Regions from separate parts of the Homo sapiens genome. Here region 2 is linked to region 1. Evidence: fine-mapped QTL for protein levels in blood plasma. Region 1 holds a variant in brackets. A gene starts in the other region. All regions are shown on their forward strands.

What was found. PIP is the chance, under the fine-mapping model, that this variant and not a neighbour inherited with it causes the effect. The UK Biobank Pharma Proteomics Project read protein levels with antibody pairs (Olink). The fine-mapping took linkage between variants from a reference panel, not from the people measured, so its PIPs are less certain.
Region 2: SPOCK1 starts here. The variant in region 1 is fine-mapped to the plasma level of the SPOCK1 protein (UK Biobank, PIP 0.98).

What each region holds. Positions count from the first base shown.
Region 1 is chr2:67,538,095-67,543,473 of GRCh38, forward strand. It overlaps LOC124907804 (a long non-coding RNA gene), which reads right to left. Exons shown (of 2, transcript XR_007086623.1): 1 at 5,039-5,379. Among named protein-coding and RNA genes, the nearest start is that of LINC02831, 24 kb to the right of the region's middle. The variant C/A (reference allele first, on the strand shown) is at 3,114.
Region 2 is chr5:137,498,652-137,504,030 of GRCh38, forward strand. SPOCK1 (SPARC (osteonectin), cwcv and kazal like domains proteoglycan 1) reads right to left here and starts at 675. Exons shown (of 11, transcript NM_004598.4): 1 at 528-675. RefSeq lists a silencer at 626-845.

The sequences.
Region 1 (5,379 bases):
CCAGATTTACTCCTTTTGCTTAGGATTGTTTTGGCTGTTCAGGCTCTTCTTTGGTTCCATATGAACTTTAGAGATTGTTTTATCTGTGAAAAAAGACATTGTTATTTTGAAGAGAATTGCATTAAATCTCTACACTGCTTTGGGCAGTCTGATCATTTCTACACTATTGATTCTTCCATTTCATGAGTGTGAAATGTTTTTCCATTTGTTTGTGTCATCTATGATTTATTTTCTCCATGCTTTTAACTTTTTCTTGTAGAGATCTTTCACCTTCTTGGTTAAGTAGATTCTTAGGTATTTTTTTTCAGCTATTGTAAAATGAATTAAGTTCTTGATTTGCTTATCAGCTTGATTGTTATTGGTGTATAGCAGTGCTGTTGATTTGCATACATTGATTTTGTAACCTGAGACTTTACTGAATTCATCTACCAGATCTAGGAATTTTGTTGGAGGAGTGTTTAGAGTTTTCTAGGTATCAGATTATATCATCACCAGAGATAGTTTGATTACCTCTTTGCAAATTTAGATGCCCCTAATTTCTTCCTCTTTCCCTATTGTTCTGGCTAGCACTTTCAGTGCCATGTTGAATAGAATTGTTGAAAATGAGCATCCTTTTTTTGTTCCTGTTCTGAGAAGAAATGCTTTCAACTTTTCCCCATTTAGTATGATGCTGGTTGTGGGTTTCTCATATGTGGCTTTCATTAGTTTGATGTATATTCCTTCTGTGCCTTGTTTGCTGAGAAGTTTTATCATGAAGGGATGCTAGGTTTTATCAAATGCTTTTTCTGCTTCTACTGAAATAATAATTTTTGTTTTTAATTCTGTTTATATGGTGAATCACATTTATTGACTTGTATATGTTGTACCATCCCTGAATTCCTAGGATGAAACCCACTTGATCGTGGTGAAGTATCTTTTTGATGTACTATTGGATTCAGTTTGCTAGTAATTATTGAGGATTTTTGCATTTATGTTCATTAGTGATATTGATCTGTAGTTTTTGTTATTGTTATGTCCTTTCTGGGCTTTGGTATGAGGATGATACTTGTTTCATAGAATGAGTTAGGGAGGATTCTCTCCTTCTCAATCTTTTTGAATACTTTCAGTAGGATTGGTATCAGTTATTTGAACATCAAGTAGAATTCAGCTGTGAATCTCTCCAGTCTTGAGCTTTCTGGGGGTGTGGAGGGGGAGATTTTTTTATTATGGATTCAATCTCACTACTTGTCATTGGTCTGTCCAGGATTGCTTTTCTTCCTGATTCAAGCTTGGGGGATTGTATGTTTCCAGGAATTTATTCATCTCTTCAAGATTTTCTAGTTTGTGTGCATAGAGGTATTCATAGTAGTCTTGGATGATCTTTTGTATTTTTGTGTTATCAGTGATAATGTCTTCTTTTTATTTCTGACTGAGTTTACTTGAATCCTCTCTCTCTTTTTTGGTTAATTTAGCTATTGGCCTATCAATTCTGTTTATCTTTTCAAATAATCAAATTTTGTTTCATTGAGTCTTTGTATTGTGATTTTTTGGTTTCAGTTTCATTTAGTTTTGCTCTGAGCTTTGTTATTTCTTTTCTTCTGCTAGCTTTGGGTTTGGTTTGTTCTTGTATTTTTAGTTCTGTGAGGTGTGATGTTGGGTTGTCAATTCGTGATTGTTTGGCCTTTTTGATGTAAGCATTTAGCACTATAAACTCCCCACATAGCACTCCTGCTGTGTTCCAGATATTTTGATAACTTGTGTCACTGGTTATTATTTATTTTGAAAAATTTTTTAGTTTCCATTTTGATTTCATCATTGATCCAAAGATCGTTCAGGAGCAGGTTGTTTACTTTCCATGTATTTGTAGAGTTTTGAGAGTTCCTTTTAGAATTGATTTCTAGCTTTATTGCATTGTGGTCTGAGAAGATATTTGATATAATTTCAATTTTTAAAAATTTATTACACTTGTTTTGTGGCCTATCATACAGTCTATCTCAGAAAATGTTCCATGTAATAAGAATAAGAATGTATATTCTGCAGTTTAAGGATAGAAATTTCTGTAAATGTCTGTTAGGGCCATTTGTTCTAGAGTCAAGTTTAAGTCCAGTGCTTCTTTGTAGAATTTCTTCCTCAATAATCTGTCTAGTGCTGTCAGTGGAGTATTGAAGTCCCACACTATTACTGTATTGCTGTCTACCTCTCTTTTTCGGCCTAGTATTATCTGTTCTATAAATCTGGGAGCTCCAGTGTTAGATGCAAATATATTTAGGATTGTTATATCTTTTTGTTTAATTCATCTATTTATCATTATAATTTTTAAATCTTTGTTTACTGTTGTTGATTTAAAGTCTGTTTTATATGATATAAGAATAGCTACTTATGCTTGCTTTTGGTTTCCATTTGTGTGGAATATTTTTCTCTACCCCTTTGTTTTCAGTCTATAAAAATATTTAAGAGTTAAGTGAGTCTCTTAAAGGCAGCAGATATTTGGATTGTGGATTTTGTTTTTTTGGTTCTGAGATAAGGTCTCACTTTGTTGTTCAAGCTGGAGTGCAGTAGCACAATCATAGCTCATTATAATCTCAAACTCCTGGGTTCCAGTGATCCTCCAATTCCAGCCTCCTGTGTAGCTGGGACTACAGACCCACACTACCATGCCCAGCTAGTATTTGCTTTATTTTTTGTATAAACAGGCCTTGTAATGTTGCCTAGGTTTGTCTTGGCAATAAGACCTGGCCCCAAGCAATTCTCCCACATCGGCTTCCCAAATTGTTGGGATTGCAGCCACAGTGCCTAGCCTGGATTGTGTTTTTCAATCCATTCTACCAATCTATATTTTTTCAGTTAGGCATTTAGGCTACTTACATTCAAAGTTAATACTGATATGTAAGATACTGTTCCAGTCATTATGTTGATTGTTACCTAGTTGCTTTGTATTCTCCATTGTGTTACTGTTTTTAAACCCTTTGAGTTTTACAGTTTTCAGTGTTTTCATACTGGTGAGTGTCAACCTTTCATTTCAATATTTAGAACTCCTTTTAGCATTTTTTTCTAGTGCCAGTCTAGTGGTGACAAATTCCTCCAGTGTTTGGTGATCTGGGAAAGACTATTCTTCCTTCATGTAAGAAATGCAG[C/A]CTTCAGGATACAACATTTTTGGCTGACAGTTATTCTGCTTAAGGAAACTAAAGATAAAACCACAGTCCCTTCTGGTTTATAAAGTTTTGGCCGAGAAGTCTGCTGTTAGTCAGACAGGTTTTCCTTTATAAGTTATTTGATTTTTTTCTCACTTTTCTTAGAATTCTTACCCTTCCATTGACTTTAGGTAGCCTAATGACTGTATGCCTTGGTGATGTTCTTTTTGCAATTACTATTCCAGGAATTCTTTGAGTCTTTTGTATCTGGATGTCTAAATCTCTGGCAAGACCAGGGAAGTTTTCCTCAATTATTCCTTCAAATATATCTTCCAAGTTCTTGTGTTTTTTTCTTTTTCTCTTTCAGGAATACTTTTGATTCTTAGGATTGGATGTTTCATATTATCCTATATTTCTTGGAGACTGTGTTCATTTCTTTTATTTTTTTTTTTAATTTTTGTTGGTTTGGGGGTTAATTCAAAACGCTCCTCTTGGAGCTCTAGAATTCTTTCTTCTCCTTGGTCTAGTTTAGTGGTAAAAGTTTCCACTGCATTTTATAATTATCTGAATGAGTCTTTCATTTCCAGAAGTTCTGTCTGGTCTTTTTAAGAATATACTTTCTTTAGAAAAATTTTTATTCATGTCCTTAATTTTTTTTATTTATTTATGTTGGTTTTCAACTTTCTATTGGATCTCATTAAGCAGCTTTGTAATCAATATTTTGAATTATTTATCTGGTATTTCAAAGTTTTCATTTTAGTTTGGATTATTGCTGGAGAGTTAGTGTGATACTTTGGGGGTGTTGTAAAACTCTGTTTTTTCCTATTGCTAGAATTATCTTTCTGGTCCCTTCATATCTGAATAGACTATTTCTTCATATTGTTTTCAAATTTATTTCTGATGGGACTTGAGTTTTTTTCCCCCTTGAGGTTTTGACTATAATATATGTATAGTTTATGACCACCTAGCTTTGGCTCTGAGTGCTTTCAGTGGCAAAGACTATATGAGTTCCTTGGTAACAGAGAATCTTTGTATGATGGCTTTCTCAGATGCCACTTGCAGTAGCAATGTGCTAGGTGTCTGAGCAGGTTCACTGTCTTACATGGGGCCAGGATGACAGAGGTCTCATGAAGCTCATCTCATTCCCCAGTGGTGAAGCTTCTCTCATTCCCCAGTGGTGCACACTTTTTCTTCCCCAGTAATTTTTTCACTGGGTTGAACAGTTCAGCTTTCAAGCCAATAAGAGACACTCACAGATAAGAACTACCTGTGGCTGAAGCAGGTGTGTATACGCAATACCCCAATTGGGGACAAAAGTCCCATCCATGTCGATGGTGTCCGGGGGAGCTTCTGGTGAAATGCACTGAGGTTTTTACAGTGAAAAGAAAGGGAGCCACCTCAGCTCCATTACCAGGCCAACAGAAAAGCTATCTATCTCCTCACGAAGCCCCTGACCCAGTGTTCCAGATATTCAGATCAGACAGTCACCTCTGTCCATCTATAGGAACACTGAAATTCCATGTGGAGAGACAGAGGGACTCCACCTCTCACACAAGCCTGACCCTGGAGGGTGCACCTCCCATGGGGACACAGTCACCCCAAAATGCTCCAGTAAGATTGTCTATAGTACCTGCATGGAACTCCCATGGGAGAAACCCCAGATGTTTGCAGCAGTGGGTGGGAGGAAGGAGAAGTCTCCTTCCCCAAGTCCTTTTTGGAGCACTGGGGCTGTTTGACATCTGGGAAGGAACCTCAAGTCTTCCCCCACTGAGCCCAGAACTGCCTTTGCTGAAAAAGGCACAAGCAGGAATTTCTGAGACATAAAAAAGCTTGCACTCTGGTTCCCTTTGTTCCATGCGGTGCTCTCTTGGCATGTCACACTCCCCCTTACCCTAAGTGTGGCAATTCCTGAGAGCCAGACTACTTACTGTGAAGCCCACTGCTCCTCTGGGTCCAGCCACCCTGTGGGGCTGTCACAGTCCAGGCTGTGCTGGGGAATGGTTGCAAAGGATATGGTGATGTGAAGAGACAAGGTTTGAAGGTCTCCGAGCAAAGCGAAGTCCCACAATGAGTGCACACCCAGTATTGTGCCCGCTACTACAGCCCAGGTCCAGGGGGAAAAGGAAGGATCCCAGCATGAGCTGGTAGCCCAGTGTAATGCTCTGAAGAAGTCCCCAAATTGCAGCCCACTCCAGTACTTGGGCTTATGAGGGCAAAGAATCTCTTCTTGAATTATGATAACCAGCAGTCTGCCACAAGAGTTAAAGAG
Region 2 (5,379 bases), not on the chromosome of region 1:
GGGACCCCGCGGCGGGCACGGGCAGCGCTCGCGCACCTGGGGCGCCTGTCGCGCCTCTAGACCCAGGGACCCCTCTCACGAATGGGGGACTCATCTACGAACGAGGAGGCTGCGTCACGAATCCGAGGCTGCCGTCCAACTACAGGGGACCCGTCTCGTCTATTCTCCGAGTGCCCCACAGATGCCGCCCTCCTATCAGGGGCTTGGTACCCCTCCCCAGAAGCGGGGAGCCCGGGTCCGCACGCCGCACTCCCACAGACGGTGCGGTGCACACGGCTTTGGGGCAGGAGAGGGGAGAACAGGGCTCCAGCAGCACCCGAGCTCCGGCAAGCGGGGTGGGGGCTGCCAGCAGCTGGGGGTCCCCGGCGACAGCTAAGGGAAAGGTCTCCCTTGAGCGCCCTGAGGTCTCGGGGGTAAGAAAGGCGCGCGGAGGTAACCCCAGGCCCTGACCCTGCCAGCCCCCTAGGCGGCCGCGGGGAGGTCCCAACTACTCCAAGTTGGGGCGCGGGGTTCCTCTGGGCACGTACCTTGGGGGCCGGCCCGGGTCCCCTAGTCCGAGTTGCTCGAGCTCCCGCGGCACGGTCGCCGGGAAGGCTGATCGCCGGCTCGCGCCCCTGCGCTCCTGCCACACGCCGCCGCCGAGCGTCTGGCCGCTTTGTGAGCCCGCAGCGATGTGCTCTGCTCGCTCGCTGGCTCGGGCGCGGCGTCCGCGGGCGGAGGAGGCCGAGCGCGCGAGCCAAGGCTCTGGCGCCCCCTGGTGGCCGCGCGCTGCCTGCCCGACAGCCCGGCCGCCCCAGCCCGGAACGTGGTCATTCACATCTTTTTTTTTTTTTTTTTTTTTTTTAATTTACTTCTATTTTTTTTTTTAATTATACTTTAAGTTTTAGGGTACATGTGCACATTGTGCAGGTTAGTTACATATGTATACATGTGCCATGCTGGTGCGCTGCACCCACTAACTCGTCATCTAGCATTAGGTATATCTCCCAATGCTATCCCTCCCCACTCCCCCCACCCCACCACAGTCCCCAGAGTGTGATATTCCCCTTCCTGTGTCCATGTGATCTCATTGTTCAATTCCCACCTATGAGTGAGAATATGCGGTGTTTGGTTTTTTGTTCTTGCGATAGTTTACTGAGAATGATGGTTTCCAATTTCATCCACGTCCCTACAAAGGACATGAACTCATCCTTTTTTATGGCTGCATAGTATTCCATGGTGTATATGTGCCACATTTTCTTAATCCAGTCTATCATTGATGGACATTTGGGTTGGTTCCAAGTCTTTGCTATTGTGAATAATGCCGCAATACACATACGTGTGCATGTGGCTTTATAGCAGCATGATTTATAGTCCTTTGGGTATATACCCAGTAATGGGATGGCTGGGTCAAATGGTATTTCTAGTTCTAGATCCCTGAGGAATCGCCACACTGACTTCCACAATGGTTGAACTAGTTTACAGTCCCACCAACAGTGTAAAAGTGTTCCTATTTCTCCACATCCTCTCCAGCACCTGTTGTTTCCTGACTTTTTAATGATTGCCATTCTAACTGGTGTGAGATGATATCTCATAGTGGTTTTGATTTGCATTGCTCTGATGGCCAGTGATGATGAGCATTTTTTCATGTATTTTTTGGCTGCATAAATGTCTTCTTTTGAGAAGTGTCTGTTCATGTCCTTCGCCCACTTTTTGATGGGGTTGTTTGTTTTTTTCTTGTAAATTTGTTTGAGTTCATTGTAGATTCTGGATATTAGCCCTTTGTCAGATGAGTAGGTTGCGAAAATTTTCTCCCATGTTGTAGGTTGCCTGTTCACTCTGATGGTAGTTTCTTTTGCTGTGCAGAAGCTCTTTAGTTTAATTAGATCCCATTTGTCAATTTTGGCTTTTGTTGCCATTGCTTTTGGTGTTTTGGACATGAAGTCCTTGCCCACGCCTATGTCCTGGGTCATTCACATCTTAATGCAGGGCTAAAATCAGCTTTCAGGCCCAGGCTGGTGCGAGACAGAAGAGGGGACTGAGGATATGAGGCCAAGACGCAGGCCAGCATGGAGGCATTCTCAAAAGGAAGGCCGTCGGGTTATCTAGATCAAAATCACCTGGGTGGAGAGAGAAGCGAACTTCCTAAAAATGATTCCTGCCCCACCGCCCCACTTGCTGAGTCAGCATTCCTTAGGAAAGCTTCCAAGTCTGCACTTTTAATGAGCTCCCGAGGCGTTTTTTATGCATGGCAAAGTTTGATAACCACCGTCCTGCCATTCCCTGGATAAGTGAATATCTGCACTGCCCATCCCAAGTCATGCACCCACCTGCATCTCTGCACTCCCATGCCCTATGCCATGCTTACCACTGTCCTGCCCCTTGAGAACCGGCCCCAGCACTAACCTGTTGAGTTCCCCTAGATGGGAGGGAGGGGAGAGAGGAAAAACAGATCAGGCTACAGGGACAGAACACTGAGAAGCAGAAGTCTGGTCCTGCCCCATCCCCCACCCCGTTTCCAAATACCAGCAATGTTTGGTGAAATAGGGCTGGAAGGGACTTAATGTCTTCCCCTGCCTGTATACAAGTGATACTGGCCTGTCACCTTTCTCTGTACAACTACACCCCATTCCCCAGACACCTGAGCGCTCTTTCAGAACAAGTCTGACCATCCCATCACCCCTCTCCCCTCAACACAAAATTCTTCACAATGCTTTCCTGATAAAGACCAATCTCCTGGCTGGAGCCCCCAGGCCCCGCACATCTGGACCCCGCCTCTCACCCCACTCTCTCCTCCTCTGACCTTCTGGACGGGCTGGCCCTGACCCCAGTGGAAATGGGCTCCCTCCACTCCTGGGTATTCACTTCTGCCTGGGCTGCTGTCCATACCCAGTCCCAGCACAAGTCTCATTAATTCTGCTCTCTGCTTATTCATCCTCACTTCTTCAGAGACTCTTGCTACACCTGTGGACCAGGCCAGCACCTGCAGTGATGCTGTCTTTGAGAACACAGTGCTTCTCTGGCTGTAAGCTCAACTGATATCACTTACTCTATGTCTGCCTCCCCACCTGGCTAGAGCTCCTGAGGGCAGAGGCTATCTTTGTCTTGTTCACCACTTCTCCCAGTGCCCAGAGTTGACACATTGTTAGTGCTCAAAAAAATTTGATAAATGAATGAATGATTTAATGAATGAATGCCACCCAACCATGTCTGGAACAACAACACATCTCAGCCAGCATGCCAACAATAATGTATGGTGTGATCAATAATAAGTTGCGCTACAAATAATTTGGTTACATATAATAGTTGAATGTGTGGAAGTCAGCAGATCTGTGGTTTTCCCAACATTACTCTGCCTGATTTGCATTCCTAGAAACTTTCTCAAAAGGGAGAAAAAGGAATGGAGTCACAGCTACTATGTTGGGGACTGCACATCATCCACGGTTTATTTTATCATGGAATGCTGTGGGTGGGTGCATCAGAGTGGGAGAGAGGTTTAGAAATGATGAAGAGACTGTTTCTTATGTTCATAGAAACCCAAGTAAGCAGCACTTCCCCATTTATCTGCCCAGTGTGACAGCAAGATCTCTCCAAGGAGTTGTCCCTAAATGTCACTTTTGCCTCCTCACCTCCAACTCATTCTTCAACCCACTCCAATCTGCCTTTCATCCTCACTAACTGAAATGACTTGTCACCATCAGCAGCCTCCTCCAAGTCACCAGATCCAGTGGGTACCCTCGATCCTCCCCAGTGTGGCCTCTGAGCAGTTTCTTTTGGCTCCCGTGGCTCCAACCCTCCTGGCTTTCCTGCTCCCCCCATCATTCCTGCTGACATTCCAGTGCTTCTTAGGGCTCAGACCTATCCCTCTTCTCTCCCCCAAAACCCTTTCCCCAGGTGCCCAAGTCCAGTCCTATGCTGAGATCCTCCAGGTACATTTCCAGCCCAGAAATTCCAATGACTTCTGACTGTACCTCCAGCTTCATACTTTACATCTCCTCAATGCCCCACGGGCACGTCAGATCTGTGACCAGGCCAAAACAGAAGTCTGGATGTCCTCCATGCCTCTGTGTTCTCCTTTCATCCCTGTTAGAGTGAATGTATCCGCATCCACATGGCTGCTTAAGTCAGAACCCCACAAGTCATCTCCAGTTCATCCATCTCCTCGCCCCTCACCTCCCATCCATCAGCAAAGGGGGTCCATCCCACTTTCGAACACCCCCTGGAGCCACCCACTTCACCCCACTTCCACAGATACTCCTGAGTCCACAAGACCATCACTTCTCACGTGAAGAACGACGGTGCTTCTTGGCTGGTTTCCTTCTTTCCTTTCCCTTGCAACCCATTATCCACTCAGGTGAGAGCAATCTTTTTTTAAGAGAGCCTTCTCTTTTTAAAATTTTTGTGGGTACATAGTGGGTGTTTGTATTTAGGGGGTACATGAGATGTTTGATACAGGCATGCAATGCATAATGATCACATCACGTAGAATTGGATATCCATCCCCTCAAGTGTTTATCCTTTGTGTTACAAACCATCCAATTACATTCTTTTAGTTATTTTTAAATGTACAATTAACTTATTGACTATAGTCACCCTGTTGTGCTATCAAATACTATGTCTTATTCATTCTTTCTGTTTTTTTTGGACCCATTAACCATCCCCACCCTCCCTGCAACCCTCCACTACCCTTCCTGGCCTCTGGTAACCATCCTTCTACTCTCTATGTCCATAAGTTCAATTATTTTGATTTTTAGATCCCACAAATAAATAAGAACATGTGACATTCGTCTTTCCATACCTGGCTTATTTCACTTGACATAATGATATCCAGTTCCATCCATGTTGTTGCAAATGACAGGATCTCATTCTTTTTATGGCTGAATAGTACTCCATTGTATATATGTAGCAATCTTTTTAAAATAGAAATCACTCCCTTAAATAAAACCTTTCAATAGCTTGCCATGACAGTAAAACAAAAATTCACATTCCCTCCCATGACTCACAAAGCTTTGCACCATCTGGTCCCTTACCTCTGCCCTTCATTCCCTAGGTTCTAGCCAGATTTCTTCTCATGGTTCTGCAAACTTAGCAAGCTTGGGCCCCACAGGTCCTCTCTTCTGGCCAGGCTCTCTGCCCACAGTGTTCCTTTCCCTGCTTTTCACAGGGCAACTCCTTCTTAGCTGTCAGGTCTCACTCAAATGTCACCACCTCATTGAAGCCTTCCCTGACCACACCTTCTAAGATAGACACTTCCCTCCCAGCCACATCAGCATTCTCTCTTGTTGTATCTGGTTGCTCAGTCGTTCAAGAGTGTTTTACTCCTTTGTTTATTATCTCTCTCTTCCTCAATTTGAATATTAATTCCAAGAGGGCAAACACTGTCTTTTTCACTCCTGTATC